Linked DNA regions of Homo sapiens: all the other regions are linked to region 2. The links come from fine-mapping of genetic effects on gene expression. A gene starts in region 2. Each other region holds a variant in brackets. All regions are shown on one strand. Distances are from middle to middle. Region 1 overlaps TSEN15 (tRNA splicing endonuclease subunit 15). Region 2 holds the start of TSEN15 (tRNA splicing endonuclease subunit 15). Region 3 has its middle 87 kb from the start of TSEN15. Region 4 has its middle 110 kb from the start of TSEN15. Region 5 overlaps COLGALT2 (collagen beta(1-O)galactosyltransferase 2).

What was found. PIP is the estimated chance that this variant, and not a neighbour inherited with it, causes the effect.
Region 1: its variant is fine-mapped to the expression of TSEN15 in whole blood (INTERVAL, PIP 0.95).
Region 3: its variant is fine-mapped to the expression of TSEN15 in whole blood (INTERVAL, PIP above 0.99).
Region 4: its variant is fine-mapped to the expression of TSEN15 in whole blood (INTERVAL, PIP 0.95).
Region 5: its variant is fine-mapped to the expression of TSEN15 in monocytes (BLUEPRINT, PIP 0.95).

What each region holds. Positions count from the first base shown.
Region 1 is chr1:184,069,981-184,075,086 of GRCh38, reverse strand. TSEN15 (tRNA splicing endonuclease subunit 15) reads right to left here. Exons shown (of 5, transcript NM_052965.4): 4 at 2,789-2,930; 5 at 875-2,260. The coding sequence ends at 2,240. Among named protein-coding and RNA genes, the nearest start is that of TSEN15, 21 kb to the right of the region's middle. The variant C/A (reference allele first, on the strand shown) is at 2,302.
Region 2 is chr1:184,049,399-184,054,504 of GRCh38, reverse strand. TSEN15 (tRNA splicing endonuclease subunit 15) reads right to left here and starts at 2,775. Exons shown (of 5, transcript NM_052965.4): 1 at 2,615-2,775; 2 at 70-151. The coding sequence starts at 2,749. RefSeq lists enhancers at 2,696-2,990, 2,869-2,998, 3,059-3,168, 2,921-3,856.
Region 3 is chr1:184,135,691-184,140,796 of GRCh38, reverse strand. No RefSeq gene overlaps it. Among named protein-coding and RNA genes, the nearest start is that of TSEN15, 87 kb to the right of the region's middle. The variant T/AT (reference allele first, on the strand shown) is at 2,785.
Region 4 is chr1:184,160,182-184,165,287 of GRCh38, reverse strand. No RefSeq gene overlaps it. Among named protein-coding and RNA genes, the nearest start is that of TSEN15, 110 kb to the right of the region's middle. RefSeq lists enhancers at 1,308-1,367, 3,629-3,708. The variant C/T (reference allele first, on the strand shown) is at 2,310.
Region 5 is chr1:184,010,971-184,016,076 of GRCh38, reverse strand. The region is part of intron 1 of COLGALT2 (collagen beta(1-O)galactosyltransferase 2); the gene reads left to right. Among named protein-coding and RNA genes, the nearest start is that of COLGALT2, 24 kb to the left of the region's middle. The variant G/A (reference allele first, on the strand shown) is at 2,124.

The sequences.
Region 1 (5,106 bases), 21 kb before region 2:
CACAAATCTGACATTATCCTTACACTTCTTTCTGAAAATGCTATTTTTCTAGAATTATAATGAAAGACCTCAAAATGAATCAAACGAGAGACTTAAGAAATCAAGAGACCCTAAGAATTTATCATAAACTGTTTGAGGATTCTTAGACCTGCAAATTTTCCACTAGAGTCACCCAAACACATATTGTTCTGAATAGGTCCATCTTCATGTCCTCTGGGGAAGCAGAGGGAGCCTGAAGGAGTTATGGAGACCTCCCACCAAGAATAAAAGTGAAATTCAAATACCATCAAAGGAAGGAGTCAGGAATGACTACAGATGAAGAATGATGCTTTATACTATTTTGTGATGTTCCTAATTTTCATCATTTTTCCATTCTTGTTATTGTTGTTTCCTAATCAGCCATGAAACCCTAGTGTGTAGGCAGGACCTATGACCTGCTTCCAATCAACAGAATACGGCAAAGGTGATGGGATGTATGTGATTACATTATATAAGGATTATAAGGTCCATCTTGCTGAGACTCTCCTTTGCTGGCTTTGAGGAAGCAACCAGTTATATTGAGAAGGCCCACGTGGCAAAGAGCTGAGGGTGGCCTCCTGCCAATGGCATATAAGCATTGAGCACTCTCAAGAAATTGAAGGCTACTAATAACCATGTGGGTGAAAAAGCTGACCCTTCCCCAGTCAAGTCTCAGATGAGACTGGAGCCCTGCCCAACACCTTGACTGTAGCCTCATGGAGGACCCAACTAATCTGTGCCCGGGTCCCTTGCCCACAAAAACTATAAGATAATAAATGTGTGCTGTTTTAAGTTGCTACATTTGTGGTAATATTATTTTGCAATGATAGATAACTAATACAGATTTCAAGACACCTTTTAATTTTAAAACATTTTTATTATAAAATACAAATAAAAACATTGAGAAAAGACAAAGTCATCCATTTTCTGCCTCCTATCCCACTATAACCAGTTAGTAATTTGATTTACTTTGTTATCTTTTTATCATATGCTTGGTCTGTTATTTCAGCCATGATTACACCCACTTATACACTTTTCCGTCTTGCAATTTTTACTTAAGGTAATATTTTCATGTTTTTAATAATATTCATTACTAATTTTTAATAAGTACATTATGTATCATTTGTATATATCTGTTTATTGACTATTTCCTAGACCCAGGGATGACAAACTATGGCACCACATTTGTAAACAAAGTTTTACTGGAACAAAGCCACGCCCGTATTGTTTATGTATTGTCTATGGCTGCTTTTGTGCTTCATACAGCAGTGTTGACAAGTTATGACAGAGACAGTAGGTTTAAAAACCTAAAATAGTTACTTTCTGGCCCTTTATAGAAAAAGTTTGCCAATCTTTACCCCAAACTTTAAAGTGGTTTATAATTTGGGCTACTAAAAGTAATGTCACTTGGAACATCTTTGTGCATATAATTTTTTATACTTTGTACAATTTGAGAGACATTAACAAAAGTGGAATAACTGGGTCTAATTAATGAAGACATTTTTACGGTTGATTCTCTCCCACACTGTTGTAATATTCAAGCTATGATATGTGATAAGAATGAAAAGGATAGCCCAGAACTCTTGTAGGTAACATGTCTCTGGTCCCTGTTACTTAAGACACGTAAGTTACTTAAGACACACTCTGGATGAACATATTTTGAGTTTTGATTTAAAGTTAACCAAAAAAGAGAAATAACAGTAACTGCAATGGGAAGACCAATTGAAAGAAATCTTTTACTTTTTACTGGAGAGGAAAAAGTAAACAGAAGTGGGTGACAAGGTACATATAAAATGCCATTCTACGGTAGCTGCAGTGGCCAAAAGGCACTGGGGAGAGCTGAGTAAGAGAAAGAAATGGCAGTCTCAACAATGAGCTGGCAGTGGCAGCAAGAAACAAAGAGACAACTTTGAGTGTGGGATGACAAAAGCAGCACACAGGTCCCACCCATCTGAATACATCCTAGGCATAAACCTGTATATAACTGTAATTAAACTGTCTCTAGATAACAAAGTTTTAAAGAAATCACCCTATATTTTTTAAGAAGGAGAAAGTCTTCTACCTGGGGAAGTTTTACTCTTCAGAATGAAAACCTTATGGAATGGGGAAGTCAACCCTCACTATGTACGTCAACCCTATTTCTGAGATAAAAGATGAAGCAGTCTGATGGGTCTCAAATCCAATCTTGTATGAATAAAACAAGCATCAGGAAACATGGATGTCATCTTCTAAGAGAAATATTCTGGAAAAAAAAAAGATCAGGATGGACTTTTCTCCGATAAA[C/A]AATGTAATCCAAAAGCAAAATTAGAAAGATATTTAATGTAATTATCCAAATTATACCAACAAAGTATGTAAAGAAATCACATATAGCACATTTATCTTATTAAAATGTTCCTGTCAAAATGTCAACCAATTTAACATTTCTTAAATAAGCGTTTTTTTACTTACAACTATTATTAGCCTTTACATTCCACCTCAGCTACTCACTAAATAATTAAATGCATGATGACTTCATAAAATACTTTGGAAAACCATGAAATTCTCCAAAGAGTAAGGAAATCAATTTTTTTTTTGCAAAAATAACTAGGAACATGCTACTTTGAACAAAATATAACCAATTTTCTGACGTCTGAAAATCAAGACTTTTTTTCTTGAATTTTCCCTATGGCAAAGGAAGTGGCAGTTCTGTGACTGACTTGAGTCACACTTAAAATCACGTCATAATTTTCCTCTTTTTGTACTTCTTGCTGTCAGTTACCTCAAAACTGACCTGAGGGTCTGGCAGCATAAATCCATCAGTAAGTTTATAATAGACTATTGTAGAATCAGACTCCACTATGGCCAAAGTAAAAGACATCGGCAAATCTGGATCACCTTGCAACTTTCGAGATGCCTTCAAGATCTCCCTTATCCTGAAAATAAAGTCACAATATACTTAGGAGTTGCGGTCACTCAATTAGATGAGATGTGACAGAAGAAAGCACTAGAAAACTTGAAAACAGGTCACAAGAAACCAAACTGAAGTAAAAAGAGAAAAAATAATTTTAAAAAATAACATCAGAGTCTTCTGGTATAGTATCAAATAAGTTCAACATTACACATAATTGGAATCACAGAAGGAAAGGAAAGAGAATGGTATAGAAATAGTTGACAGTTTTCCAAAATTGTTGTCTCTGAATCTGAAGTGTATCTTTTGTAGATAGCATATAGTTGGATCTTGTTTTTATATCCAATCTGACAATCTCTGCCCTTTTGAGTGTTTATTCAAATTTAAAATTAACATTGGTATGGTTGGATTCATGCCTGCCATTTAGCTATTTGTTTTCTATATATCACATGTCTTTTTACTTCCTCTCACCCTCCTTTATCACCTTCTTTTCTATTAAATAGGTATTTTCTAGTACACCATTTTAATTAATGTATTTTTTTTTACTATAGTTTCTTGAGTTTCGTAGTGATGACTCTAGAGATTACTATTGCGTCTTAGTTTATCACAATTTCTCTCAGCTTAATACTAACTTGATTCTAAAAAATATAGAAATTGCTCCAATAGAGCTTTATTCCTTTCCTCCACCTTTATGCTATTATTGTCATATATGTTTATATATTTAAACCCAGTAATATAGTGTTGTAATTATTACTTTAAATAATTTTCTTTTTATAAAGTTAAGAGGAGAAAGGAAAATATATTAGGGTCTTTTACATTCACATATTTAATATTCCTGGTATTCTTCATTTCTTCACATAACTGTCTGGTGTCATTGTTTACTCCAATATAGCTTCATTCCTTCCCCCATCCTTTGTGTTAATAACATCATATAAGTTACTTCTTAACGTGCTATAAGGCTGGTCAGTTGATTTTTGACAAAGGTACAAAGGCAATTCAATGGAGAAAGTCTTTTCAAGGATACTTGAAATGAAGATAGTAGTACACCTTTATGTTTACACATAAGATTATTATATGAATCAATTAAATGGCATATATGAAAAGACTTCATAAACTGTCAAGTGGTCATATTATGTAGTATATATACAACTTTGCTACCTTGCAAATTGGGATATAATATTTATAGATACCCCTGCCTCCATGATTATTGCTAAAACTGAATACTAACCCAAACATACTAAGGTACACTGTGCCATTAGTGGAAATACAGAAAATGTTTCTTTTCTGAAACAGTCTGAATCCCAGAAATTGACTTAGTCCTTAAAAAATTATTTCCACCTATGCTGAACTGCATTACAACTAGCTAGATTCTTATTCACAAGAATGATTTACTTTAGAGAAAGATATTCTGATAAAGCAACGATAGATATTAATCAGAAACTTCATTACTCAGCACTGATGGGAAGTCACACTGTGATAAAAGGCAGCATATCACAATTGCTTCTTCAATGCAAATCTTTTAATGTAGCTAAGTATTTTCCTTCTTCAAAAGTGGCACGCCAATATCTAAATTAATAATAATAGAAAAAGATACATTTTTATAGGCTGTCCATCTTGAATTAATTTTTTTCTACAAAGATGGCAAAGAAGAAACAGACAATGGATCAACTAAAATTTTAACTTATCTACATCTTTTGTTGTCAGCATGTATCATGATTACTTCACAGTATGCAATATACATAAAACCCAATATATAATGCACATAAAGCCACTTCAATGCCACAAGATAAATTTCTCTAAACATCCCTAACTGGTAGACTGTGATGAGAATGGGACACAGACAAGAAGGAAGCCTGTTAACACAACTTTAACACATTTTCCATTTCTGAAGATATAATGTTATTTAAATCAGAAGGTGTGTTTGTATGTGTGTGTTGGGGGGTGGTGTTCACTAAGGAAAACTATATGGGAATTGTAGCCCATATAGTGAAATTTAGAATAGAAATTTCCATCTTATTCACTACTCTTTTTCCATTCTCAATTTATATCTGTTTCCAGAGTTCTTTGATTTAAGCAGCAAAACATTTTCATACTTACCCCAAATACCCATGCAGGAAACCCTAACATTTGAAAACTAACTCAGAGTTGTAAAAGGGGTTTTGTTTTCAGAGTTGAGAGAAATCACTGTCAAAAATGAAATG
Region 2 (5,106 bases):
TATCCCAATCCAACCCCCCAAATCTCTACCACAGTCCCAATAACAAAACAATATAAACAAACAACTTACTTTCCATGAGGTCCAGGTAAACCAAGAACGCTACATAAACTTGGGTGGCATCTCCTATATCTAATTCCATCATTTCTAGATACTGAAAATTAAAATATAATTGTCAAATTGAGAAGAAAAAATTATTTAATATTTTCTTCCAATCATCAAGTGGTCATCAAGCATATATAATCTATAAAATTCTTCTAGGTATAGTGGAAGTTAAAAGGCAATATAAGATCTTATCTCTGTCTCTAAAGAACTTGCAATTGTTAAATACATGCACACTTAAAATTGTTAGGCAAATAACAATATATGACTGTAAGTGATTAAAAACCATGTAAATGGAATAAAAAACATGACACAGCAGGTCAGAAGAGCTCTACTCAGAGGGACTGGTGAAAGATTTATAGCAGAGGTGGGATGGGATACAAGTTGAGCACTGAAGAACATTATGATTTAAGTAAGTGGAGAAGTAGAGTAATACTGCAGGTAATTACACAAAGGTGGGATTAAGCCACATACATTCAAGGGCCTGTAAAGAAACCTATCTGCCAGCAATAGAGAAACCTTTTTAATAAAACTTGTGATGGGACATGTTAGTGGGTACTGTGTATTTCCCTAGCCTCTTATTTGTATATGGAGAGAATCTGCTAGAGTATCAGTCCTAGCCTCTCTACCCACTCTTTCTCACTTTAAGAGTAGATTTTTTAAAAGGAATTGACAAGGAACTAGAGAAAGCTGCTTCTTTCAGACTACTGGTCAGCATAAGGGGAATACTTTTCAGGGGCCTACACCTGCAGGAGAATTCTGAGGCTGCCCAGCTATGCCAGCGACTAGGTGGATATGCAGGGCTAATGCTGAGTTGAATTATTAGCAGACCTGCATGGGGACAGGTCTAAAGTCACATTCTCCCATCAGCTTCACTGTAACTGTACAGGTTCAGGAGGACAGGGGTTAATTAGTTGTCGACTTCAAACATGTTTTGAAAATAACACCCAAAACATAATTTTGAGCCAGGTTACAAGGCTTTGGTGGTCAAGCTAAACATGTGATTTTATCAGTATGGAAACACTGAGGATTTCTAAGCAGGAGAATAATAAAATAAAAGTGTGTTTGGGGATAATAAATCTGGTACCATTTTACTGGATGAAACTACATAATTTTTAAATTAACAGAAAGGTGAAATTGGAAAAACAAATACCCCCTATTATTTTATTACTTGTTCTTTTTCTTTTAAAAATTAATTTGATCCTTCAAGAAGAGAAATCAAAAGGGGAGATTTGATGGTCAAGGTGTATACAGCCATTAACTTGAAAAAGAAAACAATCTACAAGTATATAAACTGAATAACACCACCAAATCTAGATAAAGTCTTAAAAAGTTGTTACTGGTGTTTCGCTTATTAAGTACTTATATAGTGCTTTCTGTATGTTGAATGGCTTACAAATATTCATTAATTTAATCCTGTAACAACCGTATAAGTAAGTATGGACTATTAATATCCCCATTTTTCAGGTGAGGAAACTAAGGCATAATAAGATCAAGCAACTTGTCCCAAATCACAAGGTTGATAAGTGACAGAATCAGGATTTAAACTGAGTCTGATTTTGAGTTCATGCGCCTAACCAATATGCTGCCTCTCCATGCTATTGTTTCCCTAAAAGGGCACTAAATAATATTTCCATGCTATTGTTTCTTTTTCTCACCTTTTGGGAGGATGAAGGGGACAGAGTAGGAAGATAAAATTAAGCAAGAGAAGCTGAAAAAGGTTAACTCTTCAAACTTATACCTTCAAATTTTTTCTTGGCTGTTTTTAGATGATTATGAATTATTGCTCTCTAGCAGAAGAGTGCAATTCTGTTAAAGTACCGTAGAGACTAGTTTTTGAGATTCTTACAAAACCCACATCTCCATTCACTGTCTATTCACTGCTTGGAACCGTACTTGTACAAGGCAGTAATGTCTCAAGCAGAAGTAAGCAGAGGACTATCTTGATCTCGCCTGCTGCTAATCTAGAAAAATACACGCAAAATGTGAGTAGCTCTGCTTTGAGCAAGAACCTATTCAAACTTTCGAAGAAATCTGAAATATTAGGAATCTGCACCTTTTCAAAATAAAGATGCATTCTGGGCCCAAGGCTAAGTGTAAACGTGACTGTGCTTAAATCTTTATCACTATGGACCCCTAGATCTTATCCATCGCCCACAAATTGTCTTGCATGGTTACCGTGAGGATTAAATAAATTTATCCCCCAAAGGGGATTTACCTAGACAGCAAAACTAGTGGAGCGCTTATTAGGGATCTCCGGCTTGAGAGGGGCGGAGTTACTGTCTGGCTCTCAGTTCCAAAATGGCTTTGGCTGGGGGATTGAGATAGTGCAACTTGTTTAAACAAACAAAACCGATGCTGCCTGAGGCTGGCAGTTGTGCACACCGGTCCCCCTCGGTGAGGGTGGCGCGCGTCCTCAGTCTCCCACTGAGGAAGAAAGAAAGAGAGCTGCCTGGGAGTGTTCTGCCTGGGTTAGGGGCCTGGACGGCGCCCTGCTCCTCTCGCGCCTCCTGACCTTAGGGTGAGTGCCCATCCAGGCGTCCTCAGGGGCCCACGAAGGAGCTCCACCGCCGTCGCCAAAGCCGCGAACACCGCCCGGACCCAGGCCGCTGCAGCCGGGGGTCGGCTCGGAATCGCCGCGCTCCTCCATGCCGGCCGGTGCGGCGCTCCCGTGGTGCACCACGACCCGCGCCCGGCCAGAAGCAGCGGCGCGCGCGCCTGTGGGTTCCGCTTCCCCGAGGCTCGCAGCTGCAGTGCGAGAGGGCTCAGAAACTGGGAGGAAAGTTGCATCAGCCCCTCCTTCTGACCAAGGTAGCTAGAACCTGCGCGAACGCTCTCTAGTTTCGCTCTGCGTTTATTCAAATCTGAGCAAATTCTAACGTGAAAAATATTAAAGAGTAGCCTGCGCCCTGAAGCTCTTAATCCTCTTTAAGTCAGTGCTGCCGATAACTCTCTGAGAAAGTTGGGGGATACATACGTCCTCTTTGCCTTCAGCAGTGGGGTCCTGGTTTCTGATTGCTGGGGACGGGAAAGGCCTTACTCAGTGCCCTGACATAGAACTTTAAAGTAGAACCATACTTTCAGGGTGGACCCACGTTTCAGGATTAGAGGAAACACGAGTTGCTGAACGAGTGTTCAGAAAGGTAGGATACAAACTAGCATAAGCATGTGATCTGGAAGCCAAGGATGAGGAGTTTCAAACAGGCAGAGTAGCACATTTTAAGTATTTTTTAATTTACTGTGAGTGAAATGGGAAGCTATTGGAGGCTCCTGGACGTTTTCATAGGATCACTCTGACTGATATGTTGAGGATAGACTGGAGGGAGCAAGGACACAAACAGAGACTGGTTAGGAGGCTATCGCATTGACCAGGACAAGGGTGACTCAAAATCCAAAGTCCCAGGCAGGACATAACTTCTGTTTTCAACCATGATAGACTAAGACCCTAGTGGACCATCCCCCAGCAGAAAACAATTTGGACACAATGCAAAAAGCTGAATATACTGGAATGTGAATAGTGGACTGGTAGGAAGGGCAAGCTTGCTTGAAGATCAGGAACTACACTTGGACACAATACAAAAAGCTGAATATACTGGAATGTGAACAGCAGACTGGTAGGAAGGGCAAGCTTGCTTGAAGATCAAGAACTCCACAAGAAAATTCTCCTCTCTTTGGCATTTAGCTTGGGGCAAAGTGCAGTCCAGAAGTCAGGCTCAGCAGTACCAGGGATGCATGTATAAAACTTATCAGTTATTCTTGTCTGGGGAAGCAGAAAAGTGAAGACAGAAAATTTTGAATTCTGAAGAGATTAAGAAATCCCAAGGAAGGAGTCAGAGAGTGGATCCCCAAACTGTCAACCCACATCTCTGAGAGATCCTGAACCACCCAAAACAGAATCACAGCAGCTCAGTTAAAAACAAAAGATCTGAACTGAGACCAGAGCTGTCTCCAAAAGGGAGAGAGTTTTCAGTTAAAATCTAGCCGGGAAAATTACCTACTAATACAAAGGAAATAACACTCATCAGAGAAGAATAATAGAATCCAGACTCTCCACTTAACACTCACAAAGTCCAGAGTACTATCCAAAACTATCTGACATATGAAATTCAAGGAAATGGATCGCATACTCTAGAGATCAACCCTGAGATGAATCAGATATTGAAACTGACAGATAAGGATTTTAAAGTGACTATTATAACTATCCTCAATGAAGTAAAACATGTTTTCAATGAATGAAAATCTCAGGAGACAAATAGAAAATCTCAGCAAAGAAAAAGAAAAAAAAAGATTTTTAAAACCAAATGGAAATTCTGAAAATTGAAAATTATAATTTTAGAAATAAAAAATTCACTGGGTGAATTTAACAGCCAAAAAAAATTACAAAAGAAAAAGTAGGGAACTTGAAGATAGAGCAATAGAAATTATTAAAAGTAAACAACAAAGAGAAAAATTATCTTTAAAAAGTGAGTAGACCAACAGAGATTTGCTACATGTCAGACAATCCAACATGCATGTAAACAACAGAAGTAGAAAAAAAAAGGGACAGAAAAAATTTTTGAAGAAAGAGTGGTGGCCAGAATTTCCCCAAATTTGATGAAAAACACATTTACTAGTACAAAATGCTAAATACATAGCAACTAAAATAAACACAAAGAAGTCTACATTGTAATAAAACTATTGAAAGTCAAAAAAATAAAGAGAAAAGCTTGAATGCATCAAAAGAAATAACACATCATACACAGGGAAAAGAAGGGCATCTATTATTGAATGAAATGTAAAGCCACACATGAAGATTCATATGTTGCCCTCAAATACATTACATTTGAATGAACCTTTGCCACCACAAAGCAGCTGCTAAGCCCGAAAGAAGAAAATGGCACTGAAATTAATTGGGTCATTGAAGCATGAAACACTGACACGAATTCAAGTGATTGGAAGTGAATAAATCTCTCTGACTCCTAAAGATCCAAATCAGTTCATATGATGGCATTTTTAAAAGCATTAAGA
Region 3 (5,106 bases), 86 kb before region 2:
CCCTGTGTATACTTCTGACACCTCTTATACTTTATTACATTTTATTTTTTCACTAAATGTTTTTATGTAGAGCAATAGTTCCAAGATCTTGTTGTGCATCAGAATCACATGGAAAGCTTGCTATAAATAGATTTCTGAAACCCACCCTGGATCTACTGAATACAAAAAGTGGGATGGGGTCATAAGTATTTTTAGCAAGTTTGCCATATGATTTCAGTGCACACCTAAACTTGAGAACCATGCCTCATGCATCTTAACATTATATGTCTGGCATACAGTAGGTACTTAATATATGTTTGATGGATGAATGAGTGAATGTATAAATCATATAAAATAGCACTCTTACAAATAAATTTGTTATTGAGACTAAAGCATTAAAATAAAAATTCATTGGTTATTTACTGCCACAAATATTGAAGACTGGCTGGGCATGGTGGCTCATGCTTGTAATCCCAGCACTTTGGGAAGCCAGTGCTAGAGGATGGCTTGAGGCCAGGAGTTCGCAGCCTGGGCGGCGAAGTGAGACCTCATCTCTACAGAAACATTGTTTAAATGAGCCAGGCATGGTAGCGTGCACCTGTAGTCGCAGCTACTCAGTAGGTTGAGGTGGGAGGATCACTTGAGCCCAGGAGTTGAGGGCTTCAGTGAGCTATGATTATTCCACTACACTCCAGCCTGGGTAACAGAAAGACTTTTCTTTCTTAAAATGAAAAAATTAAACACAAAAATAAATAATTTCATCATGGGAGAGCCGTAATAATAAATTCAATTTATTTGTACAGTGCTATTGCCATGTTTCACTGACGTTATTCAAATTACCGCTAGAATGCCAAAAGGTCACGGATGGATTCTGGAGTCATTGAGAGAGTATATCATACTTGCAGGGTGCACAAGGATTGAGGTAAAGTAATTTTTTAAAGAGATTGAGTCTGCCACCCAGGCTGGAGGGCAGTGGCATGATCATAGCTCACTGTAGTCTTGAACTCCTGGACTCAAGCCATCCTCTTGCCTCAGCCTCCTGAGTAGCTGGGACTACAGGTAGACACCATCATGTCTGGCTAATTTTTAAAAAACTTTTTTAGAGATGAGGTCGTCCTATGTTTCCCAGGCTGGTCTTGAACTCCTGGCCTCAAGCAATCCTCTTACCTCAGCCTCCTGAGTAGCTGGGATTATAGGTGCGAGCCACCATGCCCAGCTCTGGAGTGAAATTATTTTGATGAAAATACAGCATCTTTCTTTTCCTTCCTTCCTTCCTTTCTCTCTCTTTCTTTCTTTCTTTCTTTCTTTCTTTTCTTTTCTTTCTTTCTTTCTCTTAGACAGTGTCTTGCTCCGTCACCTAGGCTGTAGTGCAGTGGTGTGATCATAGCTCACTGCAGCTTCAAACTCCTGTGCTCAAACGATCCTCCCATCTCAGCCTCCCAGGTAGCTGGGACTACAAGCAGACACCACCATGCCTGGCTAATTTTATAGAGACAGGGTCTAGCTGTGTTGCCCATGCTGGTCTTGAACTTCTGGCCTTAAGGTGTTCCCCCACCTCAGCCTCCCAAAGTGCTGGAATTACAGGTGTGAGCCACTGCACCCAGCACAGAGTCTTATTAACACAAAAGTCTTCATGTTACCAAGTGTTATAAGTATCTCTGCATGAGAACTATTTGAGTCAAGAACAATTGCAGGATCATTCACGTAATGAGAATTTATTATTAAATGATAAGTGCTTTACCAGTAGCGAGACTCCCCCAAAGCAAGGACAATTGCAAGTTTTCAGAAAGATGATGCATACCTTCCTGGATACAATATTCTCCTCATTTTCCTCCTACCTTTCTGTGTGCTCCTTCTCTGCCTTTTCAGGCTCATCATCTTCTACTCATTAAACATCACTGTTCCTCAAAGTTTTATCCAGATGCTTTCCCCTTCTCATTCTGTAGAAGGCGTGACCCATCTCCCAGCTTTAATGACCATAGATTTATTCATGGTGCCCAAACTGTTTTCTCCAGCCCAGACCTCTTCCCTGAGTTCCAGTTGGTTATACAGACCATATGAGAAAAGTTTGTAAAACTTAGGCCTAATTTTCATAAGTAAAAGAAAAATATCAGTTAATCTTTTCTTTCATTTTTAATTGATTAAGCATATAGATTATGTAAAGTAACTGATATGCCAGATACATGAAAAGTATCTTGCTATCATATGCCAAGCACTCAATAATAAATAGTGCATGCTGGTTTTTTCTGAAGTTGTTGTATATTACAGCCCTCCAAAGCAGGATATGCATTAAATTTCAAAGCTACACCAAGACATGTATCTAAGCAGATAGTGTCAATCATGCTAAAATGGAACAATACTTGGCCGGGGTCCTGAGCACCTAATCCTGAACCAGTCACCTATGGAAACTTGTCTCAGATTCAGGAGGAAAAAGTACAGATGCAGGGGAAAACATTTTTGTGTATTGTTCTGAAGTTTTAACCCATCTTTTCCTTCCCCACTTGTGATTTAATACCTACTAAGATGTACAGGGTCACCTGATGCCTTTGCCTGGAGAAGGCAGCCAAATAGTCTGGATCAAAATCAAGCACAGTGGCATATTTCCTTGATACCTATATCCAGTTCTGGTCTTGAAGTGCCTACCACTTTGATAACTAGAAAATGCAAAGAGCAAGGAGGCCAGGTGTGGTGGCACATGCCTCTAATCCCAGCACTTTGGGAGGCTGAGGTGGGAGGATCACTTGGGTCCAGGAGCTCAAGACCAGACTGGGCAACAGAGTTAGACCCCATCTCTTAAAAAAAAAA[T/AT]AAGAAAAAGGAAAAAAAGAAAAAAAAATTTAAAAAAAGAAAAAAAAAGGAAAAGAAAAAGGTTAGCTGGGCAAGGTGGTGCATGCCTGTAGCCTCAGCTACTCAAGAGGCTGAGATGGGAGGATAGCTTGAGCCCATGAGGTTGAGACAAAAATAAAATAAAATAAAATAAAAATTCAAGGAGAGATAAATTCAAACAAAAAACACAAGGAGAAAGGGAAAGTTTCTCCCTGTGGCCAAAAGCAGTAGCAGTAGTTACCCCCTTATATCTCCCACCCTTTGCCCTGAATTTCTCAGGATTCCACTGGTATTGACCCACTTCAGATTATTCCAGATAGTGGGATGAGGAGTCTCACACTCACCCGAGAAACTAGAAGGTGCCATTTGTTTGGTGATGAATGCATACATTAAAAAAATATTATATTTTTGAGTGACAAGTATGTGTCAGGTACTGTTCTTGGTGCCAGGCATACATCAGTGATAAAAACTGCCTGACAGCATGGGACCTTTATATTCTAGAATATAAATAAAATATATACTAAGTCAGGTGAAGATAAATCCTATGGGAAAAAGTAAAGTAGGCATGGTGGATAAGGAGTGCCAAGCTATTTCAATAACCCGAGCAAGAAATGACAGTGCTCAAAAATGGTGGATGGAGATTTTTATACTCCACTCTCAATAATTGATAGAACAACTAGACAGAAAAGCAGCAAGGATATAGAAGACTTAAACTTACCACTTGACCTCACTGATATTTATGAAACATTCCACTCAAGGACACCAGAATAGACATTCTTTCAAGCATACATAGAACATTCTCCAGAATAGACCATATGCTAGGCCATAAAAACAAGTTTCAGTAAATTTTGAAGGTTTGAAATAATCAAAAGTATGTTCTTCAAAAACAATGCAATTAAATTAGACAAAAACAGAAGGAAGTTTAAGGAATCACAAAATACTTAAAAATTAAAACACTTCTATCTAAACTGTTTGTCAAATAAAACGGTAGGAAAATTTTTAAATTTTTGAGCTAAACAAAAACACTCAACATATGAAAAATTGTAGGATACAGCTACAGCAGTGATTAAAGTTCAGGAAATATAGAGTTATACATGCCTACATTAGGACAGAAGAGAGATATTAAATCAATAACCTAAACACCCACTATAGGAAACTAGAAATAGAGAAGCTAACTAAACCCAAAGCAAGCAGAAGAAAGGAAGTAATAAAGACAAAACTAGAAAACAATGAGATAGAGGTGGAGCCAAGATGGCCGAATAGGAACAGCTCTGGTCTACAGCTCCCAGCTTGAGAGACACAGAAGACAGGTGATTTCTGCATTTCCACCCGAGGTGCCGGGTTCATCTCACTAGGGAGTGCCAGATAGTGGGTGCAGGACAGTGGGTGCAGCACACCGGGTGTGAGCCGAAGCAGGGGGAGGCATTGCCTCACTCGGGAAGTGCAAGGGGACAGGGAGTTCCCTTTCCTAGTCAAAGAAAGGGGTGACAGACGGCACCTGGAAAATCAGGTCACTCCCACCCTAATACTGCATTTTTCCAACGGACTTAAAAAAAGGCACACCAGGAGATTATATCCTGCACCTGGCTCGGAAGGTCCTATGCCCAGGGAGTCTCGCTGATTGCTAGCACAGCAGTCTGAAATCAAACTGCAAGGCAGCAGTGAGGCTAGGGGAGGGGCGCCTGCCATTGCCCATTGCCCAGGCTTGATTAGGTAAACAAAGCAGCCTGGAAGCTCCAACTGGGTGGAGCCCACCACAGCTCAAGGAGGCCTGCCTGCCTCTGTAGGCTCCACCTCTGGGGGCAGGGCACAGACAAACAAAAAGACAGCAGTAACCTCTGCAGACTTAAATGTCCCTGTCTGACAGCTTTGAAGAGAGTAGTGGTTCTCCCAGCACGCAGCTGGAGATCTGATAACAGACAGACTGCCTCCTCAAGTGGGTCCCTGACCCATGAGCAGCCTAACTGGGAGGCACCACCCAGTAGGGGCAGACTGACACCTCACACGGCCAGGTACTCCTCTGAGACAAAACTTCCAGAGGAACAATCAGGCAGCAGCATTTGCGGATCACCAATATTCACTGTTCTACACCCACCGCCGTTCTAGAGCCACCGCTGTTCTGCAGCCACTGCTGCTGATACCCAGGCAAACAGCGTCTGGAGTGGACCTCTAGCAAACTCCAACAGACCTGCAGCTGAGGGTCCTGTCTATTAGAAGGAAAACTAACAAACAGAAAGGACATCCACACCAAAAACCCATCTGTACGTCGCCATCATCAAAGACCAAAAGTAGATAAAACCACAA
Region 4 (5,106 bases), 110 kb before region 2:
AATTCAGTGGCATTATGTTCACGTTTTTGTGCAACCATCACTACAGTCTATCTCCAAAATGTCTTCCTTTTCCCAAACTGAAACTCTATAAGCATTAACGGGTAACTCCATTCCCACAGCCCCACAGCTCCTGGCAACTATTATTCTATTTCCTTTCCCTATGGATTTCACTCTTCTGGGAATTAATCATTCTTACCAGGGTACTGTTGAGAGTTGTGCTAATAATTTACTGACTTTCAGATTCAAATTCACCCTTCAATACCTGCTCTGCAATAATGGACGGAATTCCATTGGGCATTTCTTCTTTACAGAGAAAAAATGATTTGATCATTCACCATGTGAAGCTTTCTCAGTAGAGGGCCCTGATGGGACATTACAGGAGAAAGGAGCCTTCCTGGTGTTAGTGGTGGCTGCACCATCAGGCAGCAGTGTGGGTGTGGGAACATCAGTGGTGTTCTAATTCCAGCCACAGGCCCAGAACTCATGATTCCTTGATGTCCTTGCAGCTCTGTCCTGGCCTAATGCCCACTTTCCCATGGCCTTCTTACCACAGACACTGCAGGCTCCAGACCTCCTTGTCTGCAATGGTGTCCCTACTCCCTCTGCATGCTCACGTGCCAAGCCATTGGCTGCAGTTTTTGTAATGTGCCACCTGTGCCCCAGAGGGTTGCTTCCTGCTTGCCCAGTGGCTGCAGACCAGCTCTGGCCTGGGCAAATCAGCAAACTTCTCTGCCATCCAGTGGTTGCAATCTGAGCCTTGGGGAAGGGCTCATCCTGTTTTATGTTCATCCTGTTTTATGTTTTATGTTCATCCCTCCTTGGGTACTCTCTTGGGTACTCAGCCTTAGGGTACCACATAGAGTTATCTTATATATTATAATTGCTCTTTTAACATAATTTTAAAAAATTTATATTAAACTTTCTCTGTTTAAGTCACTGTGGTTTCTGCCCCCTCATGGACAAAGACTGACACAAAAGTGAAAGGGGCAGGGTGACAGATGTCAACAAGGATAGGCCGGCACATACTGGCATGTGTGGTCACCTACCCTAGAGATGGGAGGGTGGGTCCTGACTACGCTGGAGGCTCTGATTTATTTCTGAAGTTCAGCTATTTATTTGCCCTTGAGTTTTGAGACAGGCCTATTTCTTAAACTAAATTATATCTCTTTGCTTTTGGAGAGCTCAAGTGTGTTTCTGTTACTTGAAACCAAAAAAGCCATCATTAATAAATATGCAATTTCACATTCTATTAAATATGCCTCAGAAAAGGAAATAAAGGGATAAAGAAGGACTATTCTAGAAGCAGAAAAAAAAAAGGAGAAGGGAGATTATGCTGAGGATTAACATGAGAGAAAATCCTAGTTCTTTAAATATCTCAGTTGGGCTTGATGCTGATGTTAGGGCTTCAAGTTCTTCAGAGATGACTCATCCCTGTCATCTCTGACTGATGGGGAGCTCACACAAGGGAGCTAGATGGGGCACTGGCCAAGTGATTCTGCATGCAAGAGAGCATGGCTGAGGTCAAATGAGGCCTCCTACTCTTCACCCAAACTAGACTTTGGGAACTGCTCACCTCATGTATCTGAGAGAAGAGTTAGGTACGCAGAGCCCACCCAAATTCACCAGCTATAGCCAGTTGCAAGGACTAAGGCTGCTTCATAAATGAACCGCAATGGGACAGAGTGAAGGCCCACACCTTGGCAGCATGCTCCCAGTGAAGGGAATGCGTTGGGCTGGTTTCACTCTGCAGAGTCAATTCCTACCCATTAATAAAGCATGTCCTAGTAAATATTACACATTTGCCAATCAGACTTGCCATTTGTTTGCTTGTTTGCTTGTTTTTTGAGGCAAGGTCTCACTCTGTCCCCCAGGCTAGAGTGCAGTGGTGAGATCTCAGCTCACTGCAGCCTTGCCCTCCTGGTCTCAAGCAATTCTCTCACCTCTCAGCTAGTAGCTGGGACTCCAGGCACATGCCACCATGCCCAAGTAATTTTTGTATTTTTTGGTAGAGATAAGGTTTTCACTATGTTGCCCAGGCTGGTCTCAAACTCCTGAGCTCAAGTGATCCACTCGCCTCGGCCTCCCAAAGTGCTAGGATTATAGGCATGAGCCACCATGCCCAGCCCAGAGTTGCCATTTTTGTCTGAGGGAGGCAGACAAATCCATATGGGTCTGTAGCAGCCTCACTTCTTGACTCCCCAGAAGAAAGAACTCCACAGAGGGGTATAAGGCAGAGGGAAACACTGAAGCAAGTTTTAGAGCAGGAGTGAAGGTTTATTAAAAAGCTTTAGGCCGGGCACGGTGGCTCA[C/T]GCCTGTAATCCCAGCACTTTGGAAGGCCGAGGTGGGCGGATCATGAGGTCAGGAGATGGAGACCATCCTAGCTAACACTGTGAAACCCTGTCTCTACTAAAAATACAAAAAATTAACCGGGCATGATGGCGGGCGCCTGTAGTCCCAGTTACTCGGGAGGCTGAGGCAGGAGAATGGCGTGAACCCGGAGGCGGAGCTTGCAGTGAGCCGAGATCACGCCACTGCACTCCAGCCTGGGCAACAGAGTGAGATTCCGTCTCAAAAAAAAAAAAAAAAAAAGAAGAAGCTTTAGAGCATGAACGAAAGGAAGTAAAGTACACTTGGAAGAGGCCCAAGGGGGCGAACTGAGAGATCAAGTGCACAGTTGGACCTTTTGACTTAGGGTTTTATATGTTGGCATGCTCCCAGGGTCTTGCATTCCTTCTCCCGGATTCTTCCCTTGGGAGGGGCTGTCCGTATGTGCAACAGCCTGCTAGCATCTGGGAGGGGAGCATGCGCAGTGTTTGTACTGGAGTTGTACACATGCTCACTTGAGGCGTTCTTCCCTTACCAGTTGCATGTCCTTAGAAGGTCATATACCAGTTAAGTTGCGCCATTTTGCCTTAGTGCACATGCTAGAGCCTACCCGCCCAACTCCTGATATCTTATCAGGAAGCTGCTGATCACCGGTTTCAGGTGTTTTCTATCTATTGGGAGACTGCCTTTCCCTGGGCTGGCTACAACCAATTATTAATGTTATGTTTAGAGAAATATTGTAACAACCACCTAACCATCACCTGATGGTCGCCTGACTTTCCTGGTGGGGCAAGGGGAGTCCTTTCCTGCCATGCTTATGTCTGACTAGCTACCTACTGTAACAGAGCCTCCCTCCCTGCACTTCCTCTCATGTTAAGATAGGACTGAAATTTTGGTGTCAATCCCCTCCTCCATGAGCCAAGATGAGAATTTAAGGAGTCAAAAGGAACACAAATATTCCTCCTTTTCAATAGTTAACTTTTACCTTACCTATTCAAATACAGGGATTTTTTAAAAATTCTGCACAGAATATTTGGTGAATTATAATAATCATGCCTGGAATCATTTTTATCTTTCAATGCACCTTTTCTTCAGAGTAAAAAAATGTTACATCAGTCCTTAGTAGAGTATGCAACTTGAGATGCTTTTGCTATGAATGGAGAGAATCTAAGTAGACTTATTCACTTTCTTTTATCTAGAAGTGCAAAGTTGGATAAGACGTGGTCTTTGCCTTTTAGAAAGAGGGGCACTTCCATTCACATTGTGTTTCTTTTGGCTCTGCTATGGAGAACAATAATTAAATAAGGTTCTGACCAATCAGAATGGATGATGAAACAAGAGTGGGTGCTGCAACCAGTCGGAGCTGATGTCACAGCTAATGACAAGGATGCTGGCTGTACACATGAAGCAGGCTGCGCAGTATGTTACAGTGGAGGTTATCTCTGGATCTGTGAGAACCCAAGTCTAAGCTGGTAGAAAGGACTGTGGGAGAGTCCCTGGCTGACTTCAGTCAAATCTTCCTGTCAAGTTGATGGCATTCAAAGATAGTAAAAAACTGGCAAGTAGTTGGGGATTTTTCAAGAATATTTCCCCCTGCAGCCTCCTCCTCCCATAGCTTTAATCATCTCAGTACATTGCAACACAGCTTTTCTAGTTGCTCTTTCCAAAATTTCTCCTCTTTTACTCTAACATCCTACATTTGCATTGTAAGCAAATCCTGACAACTCCACCTTCAAAATATGTCTAGAATCTGACTAGTTTTCAGCACTTCTATTAACTATGTTTCCTGGCCCAGCCACCCTCATTTCTTGCCTGGATCACTGGAATGTCTTTTTCACTGGTCTCCTGCCCCACTTCAGTCTATTCGTAATCTGACAGCCAGGGTGATTTCATTAAAATAGAGTAGGATTGTGTTGCTCCTCTCCTGGAAACTCTCCAATGGCTTCTCATCTTAGAGTAAAAGCCAAAGGTCTTACCCTGGCCTACAAGGCCCCACATTTTCTAGATCCCCATTATCTCTCTGACTGTATCTCCTACTAACTCAATGTGGCAGACTGATGGCAAATCTGGTCCTAATTCTCCACCCTTCACTATATTCACACCTTTTGCAATGTGACTCTGAAGCTCTTCCTATGAAGTGGAGTTTATTTCTCCATCCCTTGAAACTAAACTTGTCTTATCAATTGCTTTGGCCAATAGAATGTGGCAGAAGTGACAGTCTCCATTCTGAACTTAGGCCTTAAGAGGGCTTATGTGTGTTCTCTCTCTCTCTCTCTCTCTCTCTCTAGCCTCTCTCCCTCCCTTTCTCTCTCTGACTCTCTTTTGCTACTGGAGGATATGAGAAACAGAGATATGGAAGCAGACCTAAATCAACCCAGTCATCTTGTCAAAACTCTCAGATATGTAAGAGAGCTCAGATAAGATCAGCAAAGCTGTGCTGGCTTGCAGCTGACTGTGAAAGCATGAGTAAGCCCCACCAAGATCAGCTCAGATCAGCAAAACCATCTAGCTGATCTTGAGACTGAGGGGAAAACCTAAATGCTTATTACTGTATACCACTGAAATTTTGAGTTTGCTTGTTACTCAGCATTATTGCGAAATTGATGACTGATGCGTTACTTTGCCCATTATTCTCCAGCCTTCTGGAAAATGCCAGTCACCTCTCTACCTCAGAGTCTTTGCACTGGCTGTTCCCTCTGACTAGAATACTTCCTCTCAGTCTTCCTACCTCCAATAGCTGCATGCCTTGATCCCTAACCAACTTCAAATCTTTTCTCAAAT
Region 5 (5,106 bases), 38 kb after region 2:
TAACTGTGTATGGCCTCAGAAACCACTATGTGTCTATAAATAAAGCCACCCATGACAGTTTGATGCCTGGAGTAAGAATTCATTTTTATAACATCACCTTTGACATTTTAACTTCTTCAGCATATTCACTAAAGCTAATAGTGACTGTCAATAAATTACAGTGAATTAGAATATCTAATATTTAATAGTTTGCCACATCTATGGCATCTACAGCTGGGACTTAGGGACTCCTTATAGTTTCACGTAGATAGCTTTTTACTCAATTTACCAAATTCTCTACACCACAAGGTGTTCTGTGAACTCCCTGGCTTGTCATCTGGCACTAAAGCATCACCTCTCCTTCACATCAGCCCCACAGTTCCTTCTAGAGCATCTTCCCTAACTTTCAACAGAAGAACATCATGGCAGAGGGCCAGGGATCTGTTGCGTGGGATCTCAGAACTTAGAATACTCCATAGGTACCTACACAGGGAGAGTGAGCACAACAGTCTACATTTCACCAAATTAGAAGATGTGCAAACATGCGGAGACATTCTTTCATTTATTCATTCACTACAGATATCAAGAATGTCTCTAATGGCGGGAATTGGACTCTCAGAGTGAGTAAAATACTGCATTTCTCCCCTTGGGAAGCCCAGCATCACAAAAGAAGCACAGTGGGTTGAGGAACAAGGCACTGTTCTGAGAGCCTGGGGGCAATGAGATGAGGTTGGCAACGTTGGTTAGAGCACCTGGTCATGGTAGCCAGACCTAAAAGCAACAGGATAGATGTGTATTTACCTTACATTCACATAGAATATCCCTCTATAACAAACCTTCAGCTCTCATTCTGCCATGTTCCCTACAATCTGATCTGATCTTCTTTAAGACCCTCTTGATACTTTACTTGCTACCAAAGTTTCCTTTGGTCTTCAGTTCCTTCTAGCGTGGACCAATTGCAAATATCTGAGATTCCCTTCCTCTGGCATCTTTTTTTTTTTACCCACTAGAAAAAGCCCAATCCCAGATCCATCCTCCTGCAGTCTCTAGTTCTGAGGACTGTTCATCCCCCAGCCCCATGTCTGTGTTAATTTTGTCACACAGGGTGAATCCCTCCACCCTCAAGTGGGCCCTCAGCTGCCCACTGATCTTTTTGTTTCCCTTGCAAAGCTTGCTATTTACTCTTCTAGATCTACTTACTTCATCATTTCCATGGACATTTTCAGTAGATCACCTTGCTTCTGAATTCATCAATAAAACTAAAGCTAGTGGATGAAAATTATTTCAATTTTGTGACCTCTTCTACTCCTGTTCTTCTGGAAGAGAGATTTCATCCTGTCTAAAGTAAACTTCTCATTTTTACTCTCAATCTCATCCTTTTCCTTGACCCATCCTCCCAGTAGCCTTTGCCTCATCTTCTTCCCTTGTTTAGAATTAATTCAACAGATATTTATTTATTACTTGTTGATATTATACCTCAGGATACAACAGAGAATGAGGCACAGTGCCAGCCTTCAAGGACTTAGAGTCAAACTTCTTGAGAGAATGGTCGACATTTGCCAGTTTAGCATTCTCACTTGCATTCATTTCTCATCTGGTTTCCATAATCAAGTTTCCACACTCACCACTCCACTGAAAGTTTCCTTGCCAAGATCACCATTTAATGAGTAATCCCCCTCATTAAATCCAGTGTCACTTTGACTTCACTTTCTCTTCAGTCCCCTTTCTGCTGCATTCAATCATGTGGACCAGTTTCCTTTTTTATAACAGTGCCTTCGCTCAGATCCATGGTTCCACCTTCCTAATTTTCTTCTTACCTTGCTGTCTTCCCTTTGGCTTACTCATTTCTCAATACATGTTTCTTAAAAGTGGTGTTCCCCTGGGATCTAGATTTGGCTTTCTTTTCGTTGGAAAACCTCACCTCAAGTAGTCTGGTCCGTTCCTGTAGCTTCAGTTACCAAATGTATGCCTATGACTCCCAACTCTCTATTCTCTCCCTGATGGTGTCTCTCCAGCTCAAGACCTAGAGATCTCCTGACATTTTCATGTGAATGGTCCAGAGATTCCTCTAACTTATATCTCAGACTGATCTCTCCACTTTCTCATTCCTTTTCTCAACCAGCTCTGTCTCCTATATTCCCACC[G/A]CCATGCAAGCATTTGCCCAAAACAGAAACATGGACCTCTCCCCCATCATCCATATCAAGTTATTAATCAGTTTTTGTCAGTTGTTCCTACTTAATCCTCTAGATTTTTTTCACTTTTTCCTATCTGTTCTGCCACTTCCTTAGTTCAAGTCACCGCCATCTCCCATTTCCTAATGGATTGCTCTGCCCCTCTGTTTTACCCCCCCTCCCACCAATTCATCCATTATACACACTGGAAGCTACATGACCTTTCTTTAGGTAAAACTTGGCCATATTACTCCCAAACCTTCAAAGACCTTTGAGGGTAAAATCCGTATACCTTGGAATGGCATGCAAGGCCCTTCAAGATACAAGGGTTCTGCCAGTTTCTCCCGCCCCGTCCTTCCCCATTCTTCCCTCATGCTGCAATCATGTTGAACTGCCTTCCACAGGGCCACAACTCTCTCTGGCCTCTGGACCTTTATAAATGCTCTTTTTTAGATTCAGACTACCTCTCCACACCACTTGCCTATTTTTTAAGGTTTGTAACAGACCACACCTTCTTTGAGTAGATTCTTGCAGGTATTGAAATCTGGGCTGAGACCTATTGTGTGCTTTACCGAATCTCCCACAATGCTGTTTTGTTTGTTTGTTTGTTTTGAGATGGAGTCTGACTCTGTCGCCCAGGCTGGAGTGCAGTGGCACAGTCTTGGCTCGCTGCAATCTCTGTCTACCAGGTTCAAGTAATTCTCCTGCGTCAGCCTCCTGAGTAGCTGGGATTACAGTCGTGCACCACCACACCCAGCTAATTTTTGTATTTTTAGTACAGATGAGGTTTCACCATGGTGGCCAAGCTGGTCTTGAACTCCTGACCTCAAATGATCCACCCGCCTTGGCCTCCCAAAGTGCTGAGATTACAGGCGTGAGCCACCGCACCTGGCCTCCCTTAACACTCTTATAACTATTCTTAATTATGTTTACTTTTTTGGATCTGCCCCCTAGGCTCAGCTTCTTGAGGGCCCGCCCTCTTCTTTTTGAATCTCCAGGTTCTAGCACTGAGGTGCCTTATAGGAAGCTGCTCGGTAAATATTTGGGAAAAGGTAAACAAGTTATTGTAATAGATTTTCACATCAATAGCCACTTTATTTATTTGCATTTTATGATAAAACTGAGATCCTCAAAGACAACTGATTGTTTCCTCCTCCAAGTTCCTCAATGGCCTATCTGGTTACAAAGTTAGGATCAAAACAGAGATCACATGCTTTTCTCAAGAACCAGAAAAATTGGGATTCTCTTCTGTGGGAACCATTTTCTTATTTTGCTTTTTTGATGATAGGAATAGACTGCCTTTGAAATGCACAGTGAGGATGAATTTTATGTTTATTAGAATTTCCATGTACACACTGAAAATGTACAGTTTCTTGATTATACTGCTAAGTTCAGTAAAAACAAAGGTTCATTGTTTCCAAGAGTCATCCATACTTATTATGAAAATAGATTCAATCTTTTTTCTCTCTCTTTTAAGAAAAAGAATTTGGAAATGTGATCCAGCATCATGTTTTCATTTTGTTTAAAAGAAAACATATTTTTCCTCTAATAATCCTAGATGCTGTGGGAATAACACACACATGGTTGGCTTTAGATTTGGTGACTATCAAAATCTCTGAATAAATAGTTTCTTTTCTGTGTTTGTATTACTAATACAATATTTTACAGTGTTTTTAAATACTTAGAGAGACATTTGCACAAAAAGGCTTATAAGATTAGTGGATTTGAAAAATCATTTTTACTCATCATCCTAAAGAAGGAGGCAGCAGAAATGCAGGGTTGTGGACCATGATGGTCTAGATGCATGAGAGATTGTGGGAAAACTCTATTCTCTTTTATTTGATATCCTATTTTTCTTTATTCTTTTTTGGGGAAAAGGAGAAATGTCATCCTCAACAGGCATGAGAAAGGACAAAGAAAAATCATTCCTTTTCTGCCCTTTTCCTTCCCTTATTTTCTTATAGTTTTCTTGGAGATTACACAATTATGAATTATAATAAAATATTCTATGGTAAAAGCCAGTGCGAGTGCAGAGAATGTGTAAGATTTTCATTTCCAGCCAAACCCTGCTGGTCAGTTACATTTATTATTGGTTTATGTCACAGTCTGGGAACATATTAACCAACTGCCCAGATTGACACCCACTTACACCTCACATGTAGGTTTTACATATAGGGTTTACACCATCTAAAAGTAGGCAGCCGAGAGAGCTGCCTACTGACTATAACTACGCAATGACATTGAGAGCAAAGGAAGAGTTTGAGATGGTGACCCCTTGAATTACTAAGAGAATGCTCCCTGACCACACGTTTAAATAGTGAAGAAGCATAACAGCCGATTGGAACAAGGAAGCCGGGTTTGCACCTACTGTCTGGCTCCTTAAATCAGAGTAGTGAGGATGGAGGTTGTCTGGGTTTCCTATGTAGCAGATGGCAGTAAACAAGGAAAAGGTTTTCAGCAGACAGATTGGAAGGTAACTGGAGGTTGGAATTACTCTGGAGTGAGTTGGAAAGAAAAAGGAGGTTGTGCATAGTAATCTCTCTCTGGATAATTTATCTTTCCCAGTTAAGTTGTCAGACAACTATGTTGGAGAATGGCCCTGAAATGAAAGCTTTACTGGTCCCAATTCCAGCTTTCATTAAATCGGCTCCCAAAGCAAACCACGGGGCTGGCACCTGCGAGCTAGCATTCACTTTACAGCTGTGAACAGTGTCTTAACGTGCTTGACTCTAGGTAGGGAAATGTACTAAGGAGAAAGAGGAAATGTGGATTTTATTCTGACAAGGCTTTGAATTGTTTCTTGAAAAAGCTGAAATAGCCCTTGGATCTCCATTAGCCTCTTTGGTAGATTGCTGCCACTGGTAATTATATGTCAAGTAATGGCCTCCTCCCCATTCAGAGTCCCTCACTGAGCCACAGCATGATGCCACTGAGAATTAAAAACAGGCCTTCCTCC